Linked DNA regions of Homo sapiens: regions 2 and 3 are each linked to region 1. Evidence: fine-mapped expression QTL. A gene starts in region 1. Each other region holds a variant in brackets. All regions are shown on one strand. Distances are between the middles of the regions. Region 1 holds the start of RGMB (repulsive guidance molecule BMP co-receptor b). Region 2 has its middle 300 kb from the start of LINC01846. Region 3 has its middle 110 kb from the start of RGMB-AS1.

The links. PIP is the estimated chance that this variant, and not a neighbour inherited with it, causes the effect.
Region 2: its variant is fine-mapped to the expression of RGMB in whole blood (INTERVAL, PIP 0.93).
Region 3: its variant is fine-mapped to the expression of RGMB in whole blood (TOPMed, PIP 0.94).

What each region holds. Positions count from the first base shown.
Region 1 is chr5:98,769,816-98,778,000 of GRCh38, reverse strand. It overlaps RGMB (repulsive guidance molecule BMP co-receptor b), which reads right to left and starts at 4,338. Exons shown (of 3, transcript NM_001366508.1): 1 at 3,795-4,338. The coding sequence starts at 3,930. RGMB-AS1 (RGMB antisense RNA 1) reads left to right here and starts at 4,917. Exons shown (of 2, transcript NR_033932.1): 1 at 4,917-5,379; 2 at 6,817-8,185. RefSeq lists enhancers at 3,102-3,221, 3,477-3,976, 4,712-4,761, 7,140-7,640 and a silencer at 3,862-4,491.
Region 2 is chr5:98,456,681-98,464,865 of GRCh38, reverse strand. No RefSeq gene overlaps it. Among named protein-coding and RNA genes, the nearest start is that of LINC01846, 300 kb to the right of the region's middle. The variant T/C (reference allele first, on the strand shown) is at 4,450.
Region 3 is chr5:98,656,376-98,664,560 of GRCh38, reverse strand. No RefSeq gene overlaps it. Among named protein-coding and RNA genes, the nearest start is that of RGMB-AS1, 110 kb to the left of the region's middle. The variant T/G (reference allele first, on the strand shown) is at 4,126.

The DNA of each region.
Region 1 (8,185 bases):
ACAGAGATGATGGGAGGGAAGAGGGCTAAATACAGAGAAAGTGTGTTTGGGTCAAAAAGGGGAAAATACTATATAGTCTAGGCTTGGTATTCACTTTAACCTGAGTCAAAGATTAAAACATTTTAATATGTTGGAGCTATGGATTTACAGCAATCATCAAATCATACTTTCAAAAAAAAAGTTACAAAAACATCTTTGTGTGGAATCTACTTTATGTTTGCTCATTCCAAAGCTGACAAAAGTAGCTCCAGTATTTACTGAATTTCTCTTTCCAAAGCAGATCAAATAATTTTCAGCTATTTTTCACTAGAACTCAAATCAAACCAAAACAGAAATTAACCAACTAAACAACTCCAAAAGGCGTTAAAGCCATTTTGCAGATGGGAAATCCAAGGCAAAGGGATATTAAAGGGCTTGTTCTGGCAGAATCATAAAACAGCTAGCATCATTAAGCCAGGATGTGGTGCCTTCCCTCAAAACTTGTTGTTCTTCCATCACAGGTCACGTCTCCTCTTATTTCCTAACTGCAATGACAGTACTTGATGGCTGAAAAAAAGACTTAAGTAGCTATTGCATTTTTTTTCTTTTAAAATCAGATACACAGAAAGCAAGAAAATAAATATGGGGCCAAGGTCTCAGTAATGAAGAGCTCTTAAGACTACGGATAAATGACAGCACAAGAACTTCCCGCTAAACTTGCAGTGCCTATTTGTTCTTTTTATGGTCTATAAAATCTATCCGAGCATACGTTTCTTTATAATTATTTCAAATAGTCATAAAATATCAAACGAACAGTATGGAAATGCAGATGGAACCATTCAGAAGGAAAGAAAAGTGGAATTTAGATTCCCAGCTCCCTTTTCATACCTTCCTTGCAACCCCCCAAACCTTTTCCTTTCCTTTTTTTTTTTTTTGAGACGGAGTCTTGCTCTTGTTGCCCAGGCTGGAGAGCAGTGGCGCGATCTCGGCTCACTGCAACCTCCGCCTCCCAGGTTCAAGCGATTCTCCTACCTCAGCCTCCCTAGTAGCTGGGATTACAGGCACGCGCCACCACACCCGGCTAATTTTGTATTTTTAGTAGAGACAGGGTTTCTCCATGTTGGTCAGGCAGGTCTTGAACTCCCAACCTCAGGTGATCTGCCCGCCTCAGTCTCCCAAAGTGCTGGGATTACAGGCGTGAGCCACAGCGCCCGGCCTAAACCTTTCCCTCTTTCATAGCAGGTAGGTGCTGACTGCTTAAACAAATCTCAAATCAAACAGATCTCCCGGGGTTCTTTTGCTTTGGCTAAGGCTTCCAACAGCCTTCTGCTACAGAGATGATGGGAGCGAAGAGGGCTAAATAGAAAGTGCGATTGGGTCAGCATTTTCAGCTGCCTTGTGGGCTTCTATATAATGACTAATTTGTAGCATACACCCAGAAATATCCAGGCTTCATGAATTTATAACGACAACGCACACTTTGCCTGTTATAGGCGGTAAAGTAAGCCTCCTGTCAAAATGCCAAGACAATGCGGAGCAGAAACAATCTCAAGGATGTAGCCAAGAAGGCCATGAAGTGTATGAGTAAGCAAGTAACTCCCATATTGGATCTCTATTCAGGAATTGCAGAGGTTTGCTTAAAAAAAATAAAATAAAATAAAGCAACTAAAGGTACTCTTTTCATACTCTTTTCATTCCCCAAGGGCAGAATTAAAACTCTGCAGCTACAGATTTCTCTATTTTTGGGTCAGATTATCTGTGATCAGTGTGACAGTATTTTCACACCAGTTACTGAACATGCTAAAGCATTTGTGGGTCTAGAGCTTTCATTTCATCATTTTTGAATGAATCAGACATAAAGACCTCACCATTCAAGACAGTTTCTTTAACACCAGGACTACACGTGTGAATCTGCAGCACAATCACCAGTTTATAATAAAAGAAATGAGGTATTCTGAAGCTGAATTAAGTGAAATGTGGAGCCATATGGGGTGCTGAGGCAGATGATAAGGATCCAGGCATAAAACATATAGTAGTCCATCTGCAAAGAGCACTGGCACTCTTGCTGGGTTCCCTTATCTGAGAAACAACCCGGGCATTTAAATAGCACCACTCTTCAAAGAAATCTCTCAAAAGGAGCGTTCTTTTCTTTAACAGGATTAATCGCTTCACTCCAACAAGTTGTCCATAGAAATCGCTTACCACATTGTTGGGCTGAATCTAATGGTGACTTAAATGAGGACACATGAAGATACTGGGAGCTTCACATTCCAAATTCTTGAACGAAGACACCCTACTTTTCTAAACCTTTAAGCCAACTTAGTATGCCTTTCACGGGCTAGCAAAGAAACCTTCAGGGACCACATTCCAATTCTGTCACAGGATCCTATGGCAACTATGGGAAACAATATCCAAGCAGCCAAGGGGGACACAATCCCACCTAGCACAATTTCCATTTCATGAAACTTACATTTTGGTATTATGGACACATATTTTTCGCACAAACACTCCTGAATATATCTTTTAACATGTCAAGAAAAATTTTCCACGTAACTACATGCAGATTGACACTATTTTCTAAGGTTCTTAGGTTACTAATTGAAAGCCGTAATCATCCTAAAACTTTCTATTACACTTTTTTATTAAGCCGTCTTTTCCCTAATTGTCGGTGTTAAAAAGCAGCTATTACATCATAATGCAAAGCTACGCAAAGTAAATTAAGTCTCCTCAGATGTCACATTTTCCCCCCCATTACTTAAAAGACCTCCCTGATTTTTAGCATGGCGGGTATGGTTTAATAAGTAAAAATTACTCCGCACAGTTGGGTGGCATCGAAGTTCAGGATTCTCCAGACCAGAACGTTGTGAAGTGTCTCATATATACAGGACAAAAAAGGTCTGGAAGGAAAAGAAACTTATCTAATGCTGTTTGTTCTCAAGACTAAAGGAAAATGACCCTTTCAACCTTAGCATTAAAAAAAATTCTTTGTCTAGGCAAATTCCTAGAAAAAAATAGTGTGAAGAGCGTCCTGGATTTTCATGAAACGATTTTTTAAAAAGAAAAATAGGTATCACATGGTAGAAGGCTCATTTGCAGGCTTACTTCCCTTGGAACATACGCCTCAAGGCTGGGGAAGCGCCGACCTCCAGAAGGCAGCATGGTTATCTGTCAACCCCTCACGGAGCCCGAAGACACCCGGCTAGTCACAAAACACGAGCTTTTCCCGGGAGGCTGATCGCTGAACAAACGCAGCTTTTGCCAAAACGAAAGAAATCCCTGCTCAAAAAAGTTGACGTTACTTCGAGATTAACTCCCAGGTTTGCAAAATCTGGTAAAAATCTTTCCATCTGGTGTACTTCCTTCGCCTCGCCGCCACCCCCAACTCCAGAAAAGCAGCACAAGGCTCCTTGTCTCCCTCCGAGGCGGCTGCGACGGCGGAAACCTGATCCGAGCCTGACTTTCAGTAAACACCAGCGCAGAGAGCAATAAAGCATCCGGAACATTTGTCTCGGGCGCGCGGCCCCCGCCCGCTAAATGTTTGATAAGCGGCTGTCGGAGGGGAGATTTGTCAGCGGTCCGAGCCGAAGGCGGGGAGGGTGGAGAGAAGGCTCGTCTCTGCGCCCGGCGGCCGCCCGGTGGGTGGCTGCGTTACTGTGGCCCGGAGCCCGACAGAGGTGCGTGTCAGGGGCTCGGGAGGCCTTTCCCGTTGCGCCACGCCGCCCTTCCGCCCCGGCGAGCGCCTTCGAGACCTGGGGCTATTTGGGAACAAAGCCCTAGGCCCCGGGGCTGGCTCCCCTCGCGCGCTCCCGTCCTACCTGCGTGGAGCAGCCCGAGGCTGAACAGCAGCAGCAGCAGCAGCTCCAGCGGCGGGGGGCAGAGCCCGGGGCTGCGGCGCTGCTCAACCTCGGCGGCGGCAGCGGCGGCGCTGGAAGGTGCTGCTCTCAAGCCCATGCCCGTCCATGCAGGTCTCGTGGGCTCCGGCGAGGGCGGCGGCGCGGGCGCCGTGGCGGGTCTGGGCCCGTGGCTGCGGCATGGGCCGGGGGGCGCGCTTCGCTTCCTCTTCTTCCTTCTTCAGGCCCGTGTAGCAGATGGGGCGCCACCACCGCCGCAGCAAGCAGCGCGCAGCCGGCGCAGCCAGTCCGCGGCGGCAGCAGCGGGGCGCAGGGGCATCGTGGCGGCCGGAGGCGGCAGGCAGGGAAAGGGGCGGAAGAGAAGACACAAAGACCGTGAGCGACTGCTGAGACGAGTCCCGAGCGCGCCGGCACCCCGGCCCCAGCCAGCGTGGGCTCGGCGGGCGTGGACCTCCAAGAGGCTGGCCCAGCCCTAGCGACCACCCACCGGCGGCCCGGATATCTCTGCGCGGCAGCCCCCGCGGTCGATCAATCTCAGTCCCGCACTGCCGTCCCGCCCCGCCCTGTGCCCGCCAATCCACGACGCCATAATCCCCCGCCGTGTCCCTCCCTTCCTCCCCATTGGTTGTGACCGCACGTCAGCCCGACTCAGCCTGCCAATCGCAGGACCCAGAGGGCCCTCTCCCCCGCCCGCTCAGTGTAATTCGAGTTCCCTGTCCATCGACTCCAAGTCCTCTCTCCTGCGCCGCATGCTGCCTCGCGCTCCCTTTCCTTCCCCCTCTACCCCCTTCCGCGATTTACTGTTTCCTCGCGCCCAACAGAAATGGGCGACCGCAAGTCTTACTCTCGCCGGCGTTACAAAGGTACCGGCCTTTGACCTCTCCTTGAATTAATGTGATCCGATTCATCTTCCCTCCAAGTTTTTTTTTTAATTTAATTACCCCTCCCTGCCCTGGCCCTGCCAGCTTCAGCTCCACCTCCTTGGAGGAAGCAGGCGCTTTTACAGAGCGCCGCGCGGCAGGTCCCCTTTCAGCCAATCACATCTGCGGAACCGCGTTCCGAGTCGTTTGAGGGTGTCTGGTAAAGCAAGCTCGGGGCGGTGTTGGAAATCTGAATGTCACCCGCGGTCCGGAGCAGATAGGATGGGCTGGGAAGGTACCCGCGAACTGCCGCCGGAATTCGCTGGCAGCTGTGCGAGGCTCAGGTGTTCTAGTTTGACATTTCCCTTCCTGAAAGCGGCAAGGAGAGGTCTAAGAGTGGGCAAACTTCAACGTTCGGTTACAGTGTAATTAATGAGAGTGGTGGGTTTTTATGCAGTGTAATTATGCCACGATTTGTTGTTGCTCAGTGGCTTTTTCACAAATTTCTACAGATTATTTAAATTTTCCACAAATTTCTACGGATTAATTCAATGGCAGCTCACTTTCTCCTTTTATGATCGGATGGGTCCGAAAGTGAGGAAAAAGACAATTGTCTACAAAGAAAGAGGCTGCCAAGTGGAGACAGAAAAGCAGTTATGAGACTGATGATAGATTCCAATTTGTTATCGGTAGGTGTGAAGTGGTATCTAATCTCAAGAATGACCTCAAGGCTGAGAGACACTTGATACCGCCCTCGCCTTTGCCTTTCCCCAAACAGCACAGGGTTGCCATTTAAAATCCACTAACATCCAAATCGTAGTTGGCAACTGTACCCGCTATGTTACTCAGAATCTCTAATTAGGAATTTCTTATCAACCACGGACATGCTGATATTCCACACATGTTTAAATGAGCTAATCAATGGACTAGGATAATTGAGGGGCAAACCTTCAGTCTCACCAGCTCACTTATTAGACACATTTTGAATTGCCCAAACCACTAGGTCCCTAATGAAGGATGCCTATCTGTTTTTACTGTAACTTTTCATTACTTACTTGTTACATACTATGATGACTTAAGGGGTAAACACACCTTTCACTATCCACAATATAATCCAAGCCTGTGTATATCCATAATACGCTTAATAATAGCTTCACAGTTGCCTGGAGAAATGACTTTTGGGGAGGAAGTTATATGACATTTTTAGATAATGCTGCGGACTAAGTATTATTAGAGCAAAAATTTACTATCTTGCAATTACTTCATATAATTAGATACAGTTCATGACATACTAAGAAGCATCTTAAAAAAGTAATCAAACATAATACTGATTTTCAAAGTATTTGGCTAACAAAGACTACATTTTTTTCTCTTAACCCAAGATTTAATTCGACCCCTATAAAAGCAGCATCTCACTTTATTGATCATACTTCAAAGCATATACTCAATAGTTAAGGATCAATAATTTCTGTTTGGTTTGGGTCTTTCCACTCGTGACTTTCTATGATTTTTTACTCCCCTCCCCCTATATCCTGTTCCATAAGTACACGGGTGCTCTAGATTTTCCTATCAATAGAGGGCGTCCTCGAGTCATTGCAAATCCTGGTGTCGTTAAACGGAACTGTTCTTCAGAGGAAAAACTTCATCTCTATAAGGTGCTTTATTGCTCCTCTGTTGTAAAATTTGACAAGCTCGAGATTTATAAGCCTAACAATTCACTTTTTATTGCTGCATAAGTGTTCAGCCGCTAGAGGAAAATGCTAATTTTCACAAGTAAACCGCAAGGTGGTTCCTATTTTCAAGACATAGGTCAGTTGACACACTCGCGGGTAAATTCGTACTGTTCACAAGATCAGGAATTGGCTTGGAAAGCAAGAGCGTAGTGAATAGTCGCTTATACCGCAGCCACTCCTCAAGCCCGTGAGCTGCAAGTTACAAACGACTTTATATTGTACAAAGAAAAATCGGGGAGGGAGCTAGAACACAAACAAAAAAATCGGTGACTTATAAAAGTTTTATGTTTTAATCAGAAAAAAAATCATGAAGTGGCTGATGACTTGTGTAATTCACACATCCACCCTGTTTCTTGCCACTGGTACTCTTTCTCCCTTTCTCTTTGTTTTCAGAAAGGAAGGAGGAGACCTGAACAGTACATCCGGAGAATCCAGCAAAGCATACTACGGCATGAACGTGCAAGTGGACAGAATTAAAACACATGCCAGAAACACTAATGGATTCTAAACAAGATGCAGTTTCATTTCCTGAGCCTATACGTGATGTTTTTAACTGTTCTCCAGTTAATATGTCTCCATTTCCAGAAATCTAACAGGAGAATCTCTGACTGCTTAACAGATCACCTAAGCTTGCGATTTGTGCAATCCTTTCTAGAGTAAGGGCTCCCCGGCTGCTCCCCGGCCACTGTGTACCCAAAGCAGCGGCTGAAATAGCCCGGAGTCCAACAGCTCAGCGTCAAGCAGCTCGTGGTTTGTACTTACATCATTTTTTTTTTCAGAGCAAGAGTGAAAGTTTATTAAAAAGCGTTAGAACAGTAAGGAAAGGAAAGGAGAGAAAATAAGGAAAGTACAACTTGGAAGAGGGCCAAGCGGGCGACTTGAGAAATCAAGTGCCTGTACTTACATCATTCTTAACCCTTTCGCTCCTGGAGGGGGCTCAGCGGGATCAGGGGGCCCCTGAACTTCGGAACACGCAGGACCTGGGTGTGAGAGAAGAGTCCCAAAGCTTGGCGTGAGCAATGCACTCGCGGAGGGAGAGAGCCCGGGGCTTGCGGGGGGCTCATCACCCGCTCGTAGACAACGGGCCCCCGCAATCCCTGCGGGCTCCGCCGCTGCTCTCACCGCTCAAAACGGCAGGTGCAAAAAGCATTTGGGAGCCGCTTGCCAGCGCGCGGAGGTAATGCGCTTCCTGTCCATTTATCTCAGGAAACCAGTGCAGCCTTCCCTTCGAAACAAAATTAACCTCTCATTAGCCAGCCACTCGCTCCCAAGAAGGCCTTAAAAGCTTTACCAGCTCGCTAATGTATTTAGGCTTTTCTTCCAGGCAAACGCAGCCGCCGGTCTTGACTGCCATCGCCCAAGGGGTTCCTCTGGGCTCTCCCGCGAGCCAACAGCCGACCTCTCTCCAGCCTAGTCTGGGAAACTCCAGCCAACCCAGGATCCCATTTTGTAGTCCCGGGCAGACCCGAAACCCCTGAAAGAACTCCACTCCAGAAGACGCCAGAACAAGTTCCCACGAATTTCATGGGCGCCCTTCACATGAAAACCTCAGCTCCCCTATCCTCAAGGAACGGGGAAGGGCGCCGGGGAGGGACTTCGGTGGCCAGCTGTCCCTGGGTCGTGGGCGCTGTTTGCTCTGCGGAGCGCCAGCCCTGCACACAGCGGGTGCGGGAAGCGTTGATGGGAGGCTGGAGGGCGGGGTGAGCGTAAACTAGGATCTAGCCGGTTCCAGGCGTGGAGAATCAAATGTGGTCCTAGATCT
Region 2 (8,185 bases), 310 kb after region 1:
ATGCTCAACTTCCGAAGTCCACTTAGCTGAGGAATTGAGTACCAAGTTTTAGGATTTCTTTGTCTTGTTTCTACCCTTACAGTCCCTAGTAACTGTTAGGAGTATAAAACCCTACATTCCATCCAGCTGGCTAAGGCCTGTTTTCCCACTTTATCTAATTTGCCATACTTTGGATCTGTTCTGATTCTCTCCTTTCTTACATTTTGTGGGTTTTCCAAAATAACTCTTTTCCCTGACAGATGGTACCTCTTTCTACCCTGTGGCACATACTGCAGTGTCCCACAGCAGCTTCCAGTGTATTTTTGAAAACATATATAAGGCTTCAATTTCACTGTCTTATAAGTCATTGTGATAGGACATGTTAGGTGATACAAATGGTTTCCACAGTTTCTAGTCTTTGCCTATAAGTTTGTGAAACATACTCTCTTGAGTGAGCTTATCTCTGTGAATCTGTACTATAGATCATTTAATCTTCAAATACAACATGAATGTAGTGGTTTGGTCAGGGACACATGTGTTTGAATTACATTTTGTTCCCTGCAGAACATGCTGCAAGTCTCTCTTCCTGATGACATTGGCAGTATTCAAGTAGGCAGACATTTCTCATGGCTATGCCCAATATGGATGTATTTTCACTGCTACCTTTTAATTCCATCTGACTCTGGTGAGTTTTCTTGTCCTTTCCCCACCAATTCCCCACCCCCACCAATTATTCACAACTCTACCTACATTCTCAATTTAACTTCCATTCTAACCATTCTAGTTGGGTAATCTTATCATGAAATCTAAACGTAGTCATTCTGAACCTTTTGCTCTTTCCATCTATGAACTTAAGGAAACATATGGCCAACCTTTCCACCTATTTCTTTGCCTGATAAGATGAGCAGTTTTCCTTCATCCAAGTCGAATTCATCCCTTTGGTCCCTACACTCCTTCCTCCTAGAGACTTGTTCTTCCAGTCACTACGTCTCTCTACTGCACTTTCTAGGCATTCAGGTCAAGACATGTCTTAGTCTGTTCAGGCTCTTATTACAAAACGCCTTAAACTGTGTAATTTACAAACAATAGAAATTTATTGTTCACCGTTCTGGAGGCTGGGAGGTCCAAGATCAAGATACCAGCAGATTTGGTGTCCAGTGAAGGCCCATTCCTCATAGGTAGTGCTTTCTCTCCATCCTCACATGGTGGAAGGGGCAAAGAATCTCCCTTCAGCCTCCTTTATAATGGCACTAATCCTGTTCATGAGGGCAGTTGCAGAGCTCTTGTGACCTCCCAAAGACTTTACCTCTTAATACTACCATATTGGGGATTAAGTCTCAATATATGAATTTTGAGGGAACGCAAACATTCAGACCATAGCAAGGCTTAAATACAACTTCCTCAGAAAAGTCTTTCCTGTTTGTAAAGCTAGAGTAGCCCAGCTGGCACTCGCTTTACATCACCCTATTTTATTGGTCTTTCTTTTTTATGGCACGTATCATCATCTAGTATATCTTTTGCGTTATCTGTTGATTCTGTCATTTTTGATGTCCTTGGGACCTTGTCTATCTTGTTTATTCCCAAAGTCTCAATGCCTAGAATAATGCTTGGAACATAGTATAAGTACAGTAAATATTGTTAAATAAAAGACTAGGTGCATTCTTTAATTTTACTGACAGTTAATTTTTACTGACTCTTTTTTCTAGCTTATAAATATGTACATTACTTTCTCATTTTAAAAACAGCAAAAGTAAACAAAAGGAAAAAAACCTTTCCTTAATCCTATTGCAATTGTCTAACCCAGAGGTTGGCACTTTATGACTTACTAGCAGGCCACCTGTTCTTATAAGTAAAGTCATGGGAAGACCCATGAACATTCATTTATATATTGTCTATGGCCACTTTTTGCTCTACAATATCACAGTTGTGTAATTGCCACAGAGACCATAGGCCCATCATCCTAAAATATTTACTATTCGGCCTTTTCTGAAAATATTTGTTGACCTCTGGATCTATGCAGTTTCTTGCATTCTTTCAAATGGCATCTCTTCTTTATCTTCCTTTAATTGGATTCCATCTTCAATGCTGCACTATAACTGCTTTCTCTAAAGTTAAAAATGATGCCCTGATTACAAAATATAATATGCTCTTTTGTCTTCCTGTTTTTGAAGTACTGTTCCTCATCTGACTTGGGATTCTCAAATCCTCTTAAAATTCTCTCTCTTTGGCTTTCCTGATATTCACCGTTTTCCCTTCTCGCACTTCCTTAACTATATCTTTTCTTTTCTTAAAGAGAGTTTCTTCTTTGGCATCTTATTTATTACTATTATTATTTTGAGACAGGATCTCGCTTTTTAACCCAGGCTGGAGTACAGTGGCACAAACATGGCTCACTGCAGCCTCCGCCTCCCGGGCTTAAGTGATCTCACCTCAGCCTTCTGAATAATTGGGACTACAGGTACATGCCACCGTGCTTGGCTAATTTTTGTATTTTTTGTAGAGACGGCTTTACCCTGTTGCCCAGGCTGGTCTTGAACTCCTGAGCGCAAGCCATTCATCCACCTTGGCCTCCCAAAATGCTGGGATTACAGGTATGAGCCACTGTGCCTAGCCTCGCCTCTTCTTAATAATTTGTATATAACCCCAGGGTTCTGTCCTAAGCCAAAAGTTCCCAATCTACATACTTCTCCTATGTAAACTCAGTCCACCTGAATGGTTTCAATCCCCCTACTCAAGTTTAGGACCCATCATGTCTCCACTTGATCTTCACAGCAGCCTCCTGACTGGTCCTCTTACATTTAGCCTTACCCCATCAAAGCAACCAGAATGTTAATTTAAGTTAGTGGTTCCCAAACTTTTCTGCACATCAGATCCACTTGGAGTGCTGTTAAAATACAAATTGCTGGGCTGTCCTGGAGTTTGGACTTAGTACATCTCATTTGGGACTGAGGATTTGCATTTCTTTGCCTCCTGGGTGATGCTGATGTTGCTTTTATAGACTGCATGATGAAATACAGTGATTTAAAAAGAAGTTTGACTTGCCCACTTTTTTCTTAAGACTGTGCAGTGATTCTTCCATAATCTACAGGATTACATATAAGCTATTACATCACATAATACCCTCCGAGATCTTACTCTGTCTCTCCTACCAGAATTCTCTTTCATTCTTTGACTCCCATTTGACTCTCTTATGACCTCAGACTGCAAATTGCAACATGTCCCTCATTGATTACACACGTCTTTGCTCTTGCTTATGCCTATAATTTGTGTGCCCTCTCTACCCACCTTTCCCCTCCTTGCCCTTTAATGAGGTATCTCAAGTGCTGTTCTACTTTCCAAGCTTCCACAATAGCCAGGACACATTTCTCTCACTACATAGTTTCTCTGTCCATTCTCTATCCGCAATAGTGTTTTACTGACATGTATTTGTATTTATTTTGTCCCTTCTAAACTGTGAGCCCTAACAGAGTGCGTAGATTCTATGACTCTTTTCCCTCAACTTCTCTCTTTTCTTTTTCTCATATTACAAAATGAAGGCTCACTTTAAGTTATCGATTTAGAAATGTATTTCTCACCGAGTGTGAGAGCACAGAAATTACTGCTCCCATATATTACTGATCACAGTGTAAATTGACCCCATACTTTCAGAAAGCAATTTGGCAAACTCCTTGATAAAAAAAATCTTTCATCTTCTTGGATTTAATCATTCCACTTCTGGGAATATGGTCTAAGAAAATAATTCAGAATATGCACAGAGACGCGTGTCACACATTGCTTATAATAGCAGAACAATTGGAAACACTGAATGCTCAACATTAGGCAATGATTAAGATGCACCTAAATGCTGAAATATTGCATATTTAAATGATGATTTTAAAGCTTATATGGTAAACATAAAATTATATTTTGTTTCAAAGCTAAGTAAAAAATAAGGGTACCAAATGTTAATATAAGTGTTAATTCTAATTATAACATTTAAAGAAAAAGACTGAAAGGAAATGCACTTAAATTCTAAGTTGAGAAATGCATGATACAACTTTATAATGTGGTTACATGTTAAACAAAAATAAAAACTTATTTTAAGCATCTATGCTGTTTTATATTATGTAGCTGTCTTTAAAATTACAAGGATGAGTCAGTCATGGTTACACAGGCAATGCTTAGTTGAGCCTTCAATAAATAGCTATTCTTGTATCTGTTCCTCTCTAAGTCACCACAGGATACAATTTTAGGAACTCAAAAATATTGAGAACCTTGACATTGAATAATATTTTGACACATTTAACCTAAGTTGTGTGCAGCAGTCAAGGGTAAGATGGCTTTTGTAAGAAAAGGAAGTTGAATATAACGTGAAGATACCAAGTTACAAACCAAAGCATAAGTCACCAATGAATTATATGGATTAAGGCAAACATTATGGCATAGATTAGGGGTTAATGTGGAGTCAGTATAGTATGGTTGTTACAGTTC[T/C]CATTTTATTACCATACTCTAGATTTGAATCCAATTTTGCCTCTTACCAGTTAGGTGACTTTCTGCAAGTTTTTAACTTCTTGGAGTCTGTTTTCACATCTGTGATATAAGGATAGAATGTTTGCTTCTGGGAGGCACTGCTAATTGCTTACCCACTGCCATCCTAGCACTCTCTCGGCTTACTTCCCTCTGCACACTGCATATGCTTGGTCTTGCTTTTACACACATATACACCCACGTTCTGTCAAAGTCTGCCTCTAATTCTAGAGGCAGTTCCTCCACATATCAGTTCCTTTCTCAACCTCTCTTCAGTCAGATCAGGGTCATATGACCCAGGCCTGGTCACTTGGATCCAGGGAGATACCACTGAACTCCTCTTGGGAAAGGTTCTTTCTCCAATAAAATATATTCATGGACAAAAAGGCCATCTTTCCTTACTATGTTCTTCTCAAGTGTGAAGTCTGAAATTGCTTTAGTCCTCTGACCCTGAGGGGAGGCATCACTGACCTACAGTGTATAGCAGAGCAGAAAGATGGACAGTCTGCATCCTTGATTACATCACCACCTGGAAGACTTTCTTTATGTAATATAGTACAGATGCTTGTCATTTAAGTCAGTTTGAATTAGCTATTCTAGCACTTGCACTTAAAACCATCACAATATTTTGTGTTAAATGAGAAAATAGGTGAAGTGCTTAACAAGGAAGTGGAGCATAGTGATCAAGAGTAGAGGCATTGGAGCCAGACTGAGTTTTAATCTGGTGCTAGCAATGTAACATTGCACAAATGACTTAAACTCTGCAATGCCATATATTAGGAGGACAGAAAAAGTTGTTTTTTTGTTTGTTTGTTTTGTTTTGAGACAGAGTTTCACTCTTGTTGCCCAGGCTGGAGTGCAATGATGTGATCTTGGCTCTCTGCAACCTCTGCCTCCCAGGTTCAAGTGATTCTCCTGCCTCAGCCTCCCGAGTAGCTGGGATTACAGGCATGCGCCACCACGCCCAGCTAATTTTTTGTATTTTTAGTAGAGAGGGGGTTTCTCCATGTTGGTCAGGCTGGTCTCGAACTCCCGACCTCAGGTGATCTGCCTGCCTTGGCCTCCCAAAGTGCTGGGATTACAGGTGTGAGGCACCACACCCAGCCAAGAAAAAGTTTTCATCTCACAACTTAATAGGTACAAGTCATGGTATGAAGATAATAATACAAGGAGATATGTTAGAGGATGACTGGTCAATGTAGTTGGCAACTTTAGATGAGGTGATCAAATGTCGTCTGAAACCTAAATGATGAGAAAGGCCATACCAGTGGTTTTCTGGTGGTGGTGGGATGGAACAGTAATAATTTGGGGAAACTGTTGAAAAGTCTGAAGGTAGGAGCTAATCTGGCATAATCCAACCAACCAACTGACCAACCAACCAACAAAAATCAGAAAAAAGATTCAAATGCCTGAAGCATCACTAAGAAAGAGGGAAATAGTTTTCATTGAAGTTGGTGCAGTGGATGAGGGCCAAGTCATGCAGAGTGTGGAAAGAACTTTGAAGTTTTCTCTAAGAGCAATTAGAAAGCTTTGGTATCTTATTCATGCAGTAAATGAATAATCATATGTAATGTGTTGAGTACTTAACATATTGATACTGTTTGAGTATTTTACATGAATTACTCATTTAATATTTATAACAAACTTTTGAGGAAACTGAGGTAAATGTATATTGAGTAATTTTCCCAAACCTATACAGCTAAATGTGAGAGAGCCAGAATTTGAAGTTGGGAAGTCTAGTTTCATAATTCTTGCTTACTCCATTAAGCTTACAGATTCCGTTTTATGACTATGTGAATACAGCATGCTAAGGAAGGTGACGAAATAGAATTTGTTTCTTCTCCTCAAAGCTAAGCACAACTTTATTTCACCTGTAATTTAATTCAATTTAGTCTAACAATAACTTATTGATGTCTTACTCAGCGCATGATACTGGCTGAAGTTCTGGGGTATGGAAATGAAATTACCACTTTTCTCTTGACCTCACAGTTTAGCAAAAAGAGACAAGTGAATACATAAATATATTTAATGCAGTAAGTTTCTCTGATACTTAATATGAGTGCTCACCAATACCCAGTCATCCTCTTTTTTGAAGGCACACTTGCATTAAGCTAGGCAATGTGACTGATTTTGCCTGTAGATTCTCAGCACGTCACTTTTGAGCTGAGTCATTAAAATCCCCCGCAGAGTCTTCAGTTTCTTCTGTCCTCCTGAGGTGATTAAGGAAGCCTCATGTTTCCATAGCAGAGACATAATTTGGAAGCAGCCTGGTGGACCAATGAAGTCATTTCATAGAGAACAGCCCTGGGAAGATGCCAGACCTATCTGAATTCTCTATAAGCAAGAAATAAGCTTTGTTAGGTTAAATTGTTGAAATTTTAGGCTTTAGTTGTTGCCACAGGAAGGCATAGACTCTACTGTGTTTTCTGATATGAATGAAGCATATGTGAAGCACTCTGAGACACAAGAAAAAAAAAGGACATTAATTCTCAATGATAAAATGTAGATGTTTCCTCAGAAGTGCTAACATTTTAATTATGTATAAAAGATGAGGAAGACTTCAACAGTTAGAAAGATTAGTAGATGGACTTGAAGAGTGACCAGAAAGGGTTATCAGGGGAAAATGTATTAAGTGAATAAACACAGCATTATGTGAAAGTAAAAAAAAAATACATTTGAAAGACAGAAAATGAGGCCATGTAGCTGAAATATCTGATAATTACTAGTAAAGTGGTAGACAGATGTGAAGCTAATGGTAGAGAGATGTGAATAAAGAGAGAGATTAGGGGCCACTTGGGTTCTGATAAACCTAGTTCTTGAACTTGAGTTTGTACAATCTGGGAGAGCTGTTAGAAGCTTTTGATAGAGATGTGTGCGACAGCCACGAATAGACATCTATTGAATAGACCACAGTAATGATGATGTAGTCCCTGCCCTGTGTTGCTTGCAAACTATGATAGGAGATGTTAGATTATTTTGAAATCATTTGTTTAGGTGGCATTAAGTGTAAATTCAATAAGATAAAACACTTTTAGAGAAACCGAGGTAACTGACAGTGGAAGTTACATTTTCGCTGAGTCTTCAGTGTTCAAAAGGTGGTTAAGACTTCAAGTGGGAAGTAGGAAGGAAAAGGTAGAGGGGAAGGCCTCGTGTGAGGTAAGAGTTGGGCTCTGTGATAGCCTGCAGTCTGTGCCTAGGAAAAACAACTCAGGCAGTAATATGACCAATGACTCTAGCATTAACCAGATGTGAAAATGTGAACAGCTCAACGGGAACAGTAGTAGCAGGCATAACTTGTGTTGGATTAAATGGGTCAAGAGACCTCGCCAAGGTGCCTAGCTTAGACAGGTAAAGGAAAGATGCATGTCATTAGTTGAAATTGAGAAGGTAAGAGAGGTAGCACATTGAGGAGCCATAAAGCGCCAGCTGCTTCACCTCAGCCTAGGTCTGTAGGAGACGTAGTGGAGCCAGCTGAGTGAGAAAACAGCACTGCTTCTTACCATAATACTCGGGTGTGTATTGAATCCTCTTTCAACACATGAAGAATTTTTATTTTATACATTTATTCTTAATTTTTATGGATACATGTGAAGGATCTTAAGACAAAAATGAGCCCTCTGGAAAACAGTAGTGGTGCTCTCAAGAGGGAAAAGGAAAAGCAGTGGGTAGAGAGTTATTTATTTGATAATATTTACAAATT
Region 3 (8,185 bases), 110 kb after region 1:
CCAGCTAAGCAGCCACTGAGAATCTTCACAGCTCTGTGGGCTTACAAGGGGATCTCCTGATTTGTGGGTTGCATGGATGCATGGAAAAAGTGTGGTTTCCCAGGTGGGGTAGCACAATCACTCACTACCTCCCTTGGCTGGGAGTGGGAGCTCCCCTTGCACTGTGCAGCTCCTGGGTGTGCTGTTACTCCGCCCTGCTTTTCCTCACTCTCCATGGGTCTTGCCAACTGCAAAGTCAGTCTCAGTGAGAGAACCTGGATACCTTAGTTGCTGCAGGATTCATTCACTGTTTTCATTCTTCTTGGTAGGCACCTCTGACCATAGCTGTTTCTAGTCAGCCATCTTGGCCCCTCCTTTTCCTGGATGGTCTTGATGTTTGTAGATGTTCATCAGTGTCTGGGCATCATTAAAGAGTTAGGCATTTATTGTCGTTTTGCAATCTGGGCTTGCATTTTTAGGAAGGCTTTCCAGGTATTTGAAGGAACTTGGCCCATCCAACAATGCTGTGGTTCTTAGAAACTTGTAGAAATACTGCCTTAGTAGTCTTGAATAAGATCTAGATGAGTTCTCTGAATTACCAGGTAGATACTCTTGTTTTTTTCCTTTACTTTCTCCCCAAAAAACAGAGTGTCTTTCTTTCTCTCTCTCTCTCTCTCTCTGTTCTGAGCTGCCTGGAACTAGGTGTGGGTAGACTCAGGCATTCCTGTGGCCACAACCACCAGGACTGTGCTGATTTAGACCTGAAGCCAGTACAGCACTGGATGTCATCCATGGCCTGCTGTAACCACTACATGGCTACCACCTATGTTCACTCAAGGCCTTAGGGCTCTATGACCAGCATGTGGTGGAGCCAGCCAGATTTTAATTCCTTCCTTTAGAGTGGCAAGTTCCCCCATGGCCCCTGTGGGTCCAGAGATGCTATCTGGGAGCCAGGGATTGGAGTAAAAAATGTTAGCAATTTACCTGATGTTATATTCTACTGTGGCTAAGCTGGCATTCAAACTACAAGACAAATTCCTTCTTGCTCTTCCCTCTACTCACTGGCAAAGAAACCGCTCTCCGTGTCCACCATCACTACCAGCTCACACAGGGCTTCTGCCTGGCCACCAGTGATGTTCACTTAAGGCCCAAGGGCTCTTCCGTCAGCTTGTGGTGAACACTGCAAGGCCCAGGTCTCACTCTTTAGGGCAGTTGCCCCTACCTTTGGTCCAGGGCAGATCCAGAATTGATTTCCAAGTGCCTAGGCTTGGACTTGAGGACCTCAAGTGTCTTCTTGTTGCTTTACCCCAGTGTGGCTGAGCTAGTACCTATGGTGTAAGACAAAGTCCTCTTTCCTTCTCCCTCTGCTTTTCTCAAAAAGGGAAATTTCACTATAGCCACCATAGGTGGGAATATGCTGGGACACACCTGAAGGCAGCATGTCTCAGAGTGCAAGACCCATGCTGCATGCTGTATTAACTGAGTATCATTGTTGGTTATCTGGGGCCCAGGAGTTTGTTTTTTTTGTTTGTTTGTTTTAGATGGAGTCTTGCTCTGTCGCCCAGGCTGGAGTGCAGTGGCATGATCTTGGCTCACTGCATCCCCCACCTCCTGGGTTCAAGTGATTTTTCTGCCTCAGCCTCTGGAGTAGCTGGGATTGCAGGCATGTGCCACCAAGCCCCACTAATTTTTTTTTTTTTTTTTTTTTTTGTATTTTTAATAGAGACGGTTTTCACCATGTTTGTCAGGCTGGTCTCAAACTCCTAACCTCATGATCCACCTGCCTCAGCCTCCCAAGCGCTGGGATTACAGGCATGAGCCACCACGCCCAGCCCAAGAACTCTTTAATTTTCATGCAATGAGTCCTGCCAGGACTGGGTCATTTCATTCAAGACAGCACATTTTCTTTTGGCCCAGGGAGTGTCAAGAAATGAGCTAGGGCATGGAATGGGGACCTTATGACTGTGTACCATGCCATATCCTACTATGGCTGTGCTGGTATCCAAGATGTCAGGCGAAGTCTGTTATACTTTTCACTCCTCTCCTCAAGCAGGAGGAAGGCGTCACTTTTGTTGTTGCCAGCTGCATGGCCTGAAGTTGGAGAAGGCATGGCGCAAGCATTCCCTTAGCCACCTTGGCTGGTGTCTCCCTAGGTCACATGCCATTCCAATCCACTGTCTCTAAGCCCAGGCCAGCCCTAGTAGTTGCCTGATTTCCTTCAATTATATTGCTCTTATTTTTTTATAAAGAATGTTATATTGCATTTAATTATTATCGTAAGGGGAGAAATGTGACAAATTCTATCCTAGAACATTTTATGGAGTTGGCTTTCCTTTTGCAAGGCTCTAAAACACCTTATTTTCCCACTAATTCTTATAAAACTGCCCCCATTAACATCAACCCTCAGATAACATGTAAGCAAGTAGCAAAGAGCTAAAAACACCAGAGTAAATAAAATCCACCTCAAGCCAAAAAACAACAACAAAAAAGAAATTGCAGTCCTTCAGTCCTAGACTGCCTCTTAAGTTTACTTAGAACCCTAGAGCACTTTGGCCAGTGGTGGAGAGGCCTGCTGAGAAACTCAAGTTCTGACTACTTTGATGGGCAATTTTCCTCTAGCGAGGTCTCATCCAAATGCTCTCTTCGTGCAAGGGTGTTGGCTGAGCCCATCACAGCTTTGGTCTCTGCTGTGACAGGGCAGCACTGAGTTCAATGTAAAGTCTCACAGTTGCTGTACTTTCCCTCTCCCAAGCCTATAGATTTCTCCATGCTGCATGGCTGCTACTAGGGGATGGGGGAGGGGTGGTGGAAGCACTCCCTTAGTTGTACCAGCTTGTGTCTCAGTAGATTGTGTGTCCCTCCAGTCCACTGGCTCTGAACCGATCTCAGCACTAGGACCTGCCTAGGAGTTGCAGTCCTTATGGCCTAGACTGCCCCTTAAGTTCCCTTAGGGTTCCAGAGCACTTTCGCCATGTGGGTGGCAAAGCTTGCCGGACTTCAGGCTCTGACCATTGGGATGGGCGATTTCCCTCTGGCTGCAGCTTGTCCAAATGCTCCCTTGGTGGGCAAGTGTCAGCTGGGTACAACCCAGTTCTGTTTTCTGCTGTGACAGGGCACACTGAATTCAATGTAAAGTTCCCCAGTTGCTGTGTTCTCCCTCTCCCAGTACACAGATTCTCTGTGCTGCATGGCCACTGTGGGGGAAGGGTATGGATGAGAAGAGTGGCATCAGCTATTTAAGACTGCCTCTCCACCGGGCGCGGTGGCTCACGCTTGTAATCCCAGCACTTTGGGAGGCCAAGGTGGGAAGATCATTTGAGGTCAGGAGTTTGAGACCAGCCTGGCCAACATGGTGAAACCCTGTCTCTACTAAAAGTACAAAAAAATTAGCCGGGCATGGTGGCGCATGCCTATAATCCCAGCTACTCTGGAGGCTGAGGCAGGATAATCGCTTGAACTGAGGAGGTGGAGGTTGCAGTGAGCTGAGATCGTGCCATTGCACTCCAGCCTGAGCAACAACAGCAAAACTCCATCTCAAAAAAAAAAAAAGACTGTCTTTCCTACTGCCTTTCAGTGCCTCTCTCAGCTATATGAAATTAAAACCAGGCACTGTGGGCCGGGCGTGGTGGCTCACGCCTGTAATCCCAGCACTTTGGGAGGCCGAGGCGGGCGAATCTCGAGGTCAGGAGATTGAGACCATCCTGGTTAACACGGTGAAACCCCGTCTCTACTTAAAATACAAAAAATTAGTCGAGTGTGGTGGCGGGTGCTTGTAGTCCCAGCTACCCGGGAGGCTGAGGCAGGAGAATGGCATGAACCCGGGAGGTGGAGCTTGCAGTGAGCCGAGATCGCGCCACTGCACTCCAGCCTGGGCGACAGAGCGAGACTCTGTCTCAAAAAACAAACAAACAAACCAAAAAAAAACCCACGCATTGTGAGTGCTCATGTGATTTTTGGTTCTTGTGATGGTGATTTTTGTGTGTAGTTAGTTGTTAAAATTGGGTGTTCTTGTGGGGCTTGGTTGGTAGGGGGAACAAACGGTGTAGGCTTCTATCCAGCCATCTTGCTCCACCTTCCTCTTGATCACATTTTAAAAGTTTCTGCTAAAATGTTAACTCCTCAGAGAAGATTTCTTTTATCACCCAG[T/G]CTACAAAAGCCCTCTTAGCTTCATTGATACATTCTAACACTTCATTATGATTTTTCTTCATAAACATTTGTAAGAAACTGACCTTATATGGACATTATAAATTTATTTGTTTGTTCATAGTCTATTTGAAATCTCTAGTATCTAGAACAGTAGCTGGTGCATAGTAGGTGCTCAATAAATTATTAATAAATTAATATTCTATAATTTAAAAAGTATTCCACAAGAATGTTAATTAAAATCAGCTTTAAAAATACCCTTTTGGTTTGGAGATCTGATCCAACATGCTTTTCTCATGGTAGAAATTAATTGAATAAAGTTTTATTTGTTTGTTTTTGAGATAGGGTCTTGTTGCCACCCAGGCTGGAGTACAGTGGCATGATTATAGCTCACTGCAGCCCTGAACTCCTGGGCTCAAGCAGTCCTCCTACCTCAGCTCCTAAGTAGCTAGGACTACAAGTGTGTGCCACCACACCCAGCTATTTTTAATTTTTTTGTGGGGGCACAGTCTCGCTGTTTTACCCAGACTGATCTGGAACTCTTGGCCTTAAGTGATCCTCCTGCCTCAACCTCCAAAAGTATTGCTATTACAGTTATGAACCACAGCACCTGGCCAAGTAAAATTTTTAGACATGTTTCTAAAACTTTTGTGTTATACATTTCAATTAGGATTGCATATTGTTCTTTAAACTGCTTGAACTCAAGAAGGCACAAACACAACACATTGTAGTTTTTTCCCCCAATCTTTTTCTTTCATCATGATCTGTTGGGTTTCCTTTCTTATCTTAGGCAGATCTCATAGTTTTCTCGTAATTTTCAATAATTAAGATATGCCAGTGTAGTCAGTTTAAACCTGCATTCCTCTATTTTTCCTCCCTACTTGAGCAGGTCAGGACTGGCTTCCACAAACCTGCAGGGAATTTCAAGCTCTTCTTTCATTTCACACCTCAGAGTAGGGGCAAAGCTATTTTTAAATTTCCCCTTTCCTCTCTTTTGTATTTGTACGTTTTTGGAATTGGATTTAATAAAAAAAATGGCAAGGTCAACTCCTGTACAAACAGACTCTCCTTCCTGATTGTTGCTACCCCTCTGGATTACACTGGTTAGCGAATGGAACCCTTGGGGAGCAGGCAATACAACTGTTGGCTTTCTCTTGGAGCACAATTGTTAGCTCTTCAGGGAAGTCTGTGTTCTTGTTTTATTTTTTCCTTATATTTTCAGAAGAGTTATTTAAAAACTTTAGTCACAGTAAAAATGTTTAAAACATACATGACCAGTGGTTGTTGAGTATTCTTATACTCTGCTTGATGGGCAAAAAGGGGTTTAACATTTCTGATGTCATATTGGCAATCAGCTTCAAAAGACTCATGAATATGTAGAGCCTTTGAGAAATTCTACTCCTGTAAATTTATGGGCAATCAGCTTTAAAAGACACATGAATGTTCTCACTCATAGGTGGGAACTGAACAATGAGAACACTTGGACACAGGAAGGGGAACATCACACACCAGGGCCTGTCGTGGGGTCGGGGGAAGGATAGCATTAGGAGATATACCTAATGTAAATGATGAGTTAATGGGTACAGCACACCAACATGGCACATGTATACATATGTAACAAACCTGCACATTGTGAGCATGTACCCTAGAACTTAAAATATAATAGTAAAAAATAAAAATAAAAATAAAACACTAAAAAAAAGACACATGAATGTGTACAGCATTTGACTGAGAAATTCTACCTCTGTAAAATTATTCCCCTCCAAAATAAGTCAGAAACATATGAAAATATGTATATATATAGATATTATTACTGTGTTTTTAATAGCAAACATTTGTAAATGAGGTATGAGGTATGAGGTATTGTCATTATACCTCATTTACAAATGTTTGCTATTAAAAACAGTAATAATATCTATATACGTACATAAATTGTACACTTACACAATGAAATACTATAAAGCTTTAAAAATGGTAACTGACATTTACTGAATATTCACTGTGTGCTAGGCATTCTTATAACTTCTTTACATATATTGACTCATTTAATCTTTGCTACAACCCTATAAGATAGATACTATTATAATAATCATTCTATATGTGAGGAAATTGAGGGTCAAGGTGTTTAATGATCTTGCACAAGATCACACAATTGGTCAATAAGACTCGGGTTCAACTTAAGTAGTCCTATTCCAGAGCTTATGTTCAAATACTATGAAGTACAACTTCTCCAATATAAGTAATAAGGTAATTGTATATTTATTTGTTAACATACACATATTTCAGATATAAAGTTGAGTAATAAAAAGAAACAGTATAATATGCATTGAATGAAACAAGTTTTGAATGATGTATAGATAGATATATAGATGTACCTGTTATGCATATTTACAAAAAATTCTTGAATGTATTGGAGTTATATAGCTCAAAATATTAATCCATTGTTATTTTTTAGGTAATACATAGTAGATTTTGGGTGATTATTTTTCTTTACACACATGCAATACTTGGACTCATCTTTATAAACATCTAATACTTGAGAAATAACACAACAGAAACCATTGAAATCCCTGCTCATCTCTATGTAAACTATGGAAAGGGTTTTCTATCTTTTCCCAGCCTAGCATGTTGCTGGTGGCTGTGTACCTCCTGATGTGGTAGGCACTGTGGCTCTATAGGAATTCAGCAGTGAGCTGGAGGAAGAGATTCAGGCTAATAGGGAGCTGAGAGTTGCTGTACGTGCACCTGGGAGCCTGCCGTGGGATACATGACACTATGTTCAAAACTCAGTTGCCCCAAGTAATTTTCATCGAACTTGTTTCTCAAAAAATAAACTTAAAATAAGCCATAGATTCCCTATTTCGCTTTTTTTTTTTTTTTTTTTTTTTTTTTGCTGGTCATATATTGGCTCTTAGCGTGCCTATTGGCATGTTGTTTTAGGTTCGAAGATAAAAAATAATAGTATTACCCAGTACTCTGTAATAAAATGTATTTTAAAATACACGTTTCCCCAATAATAAATACATACAAACTTGTTTAAGTTAGATGTTCGTATAGTCTTGAAATTTTTTGGGGGGGAAAGAAAATATCAGGAAACCATAATCTTGTAATAGTATTTGAACAATTTGACAAATAGATTTCAACATGAAGATTCAAAGGTCCATGTTCAAGAGTTCTCTAGATTTCATAGCAATTTGAACAAATCTATTGTCCCAAGTCATCTTATAAGGGCAAACTTTCCATTAAGCATACTGAGACTCCTCTTCAAAATCACCCCGGTAACTACTTTGCTTCCAAAATAATGACTAATTTAAGAATAGATTGTAAAAAGACAGCATGACTATTAGTAAAGGATTTTTCATTGGTGCTTTTTCATCACTAATGACAGTCAGATTGGGCCATTACTGATTTTGGGGTTCTGACCTCCCTGCAGTTGTCTTTTCAATTGCCCACTTCTCACATAATCAAGAGGGATTACACAAACTTCTCCAACCACAGCTGTGCTTGAAAGAGTAAAGACTCTAATTTCAATGTATGGAGGTGTTTTAGTTGAAGAAACTGCAATTGCAAAGTTATTTTGAATTTATTTGGCACCTTGGTAGGTCTTATTGCAGTTTACCCTTTTATTTTCCCATTTTAAAAATAATAGAAACACAGACCACACAACTTATGGAGAGTTCAAGCCACAGAAGTGAAAGGAAATATCTGCATTCAGTTCTCCAAAGACCTCTTGTTCAGGAAAGTGGGAAATCTTCTAGCCTGGAGTGAGAATAATTGATGTCCACAGGGGGGTTACAAAACAAGAGAAAGGAAAGTGTACTCAATAGGAATTGACTCAAGGATCTTTTTCATCCACCAATGAGCCACCCACAGTTTTTTCTTCAGAGGTTTCTTTTGGCATGCTCCCAGAGAGTGCTTTGAGCTTTCTCTCAGGCAATCTAATATATTGCCATTTCTGTGCCTAGTTTACAGCTTTTCCAAACAGAAACCTGAAAAAAAACTGCCAATGAACAACTGCTCAGCTTTATCAACCTTGTGGGTCTTTCCAGGATATGAGCAAACA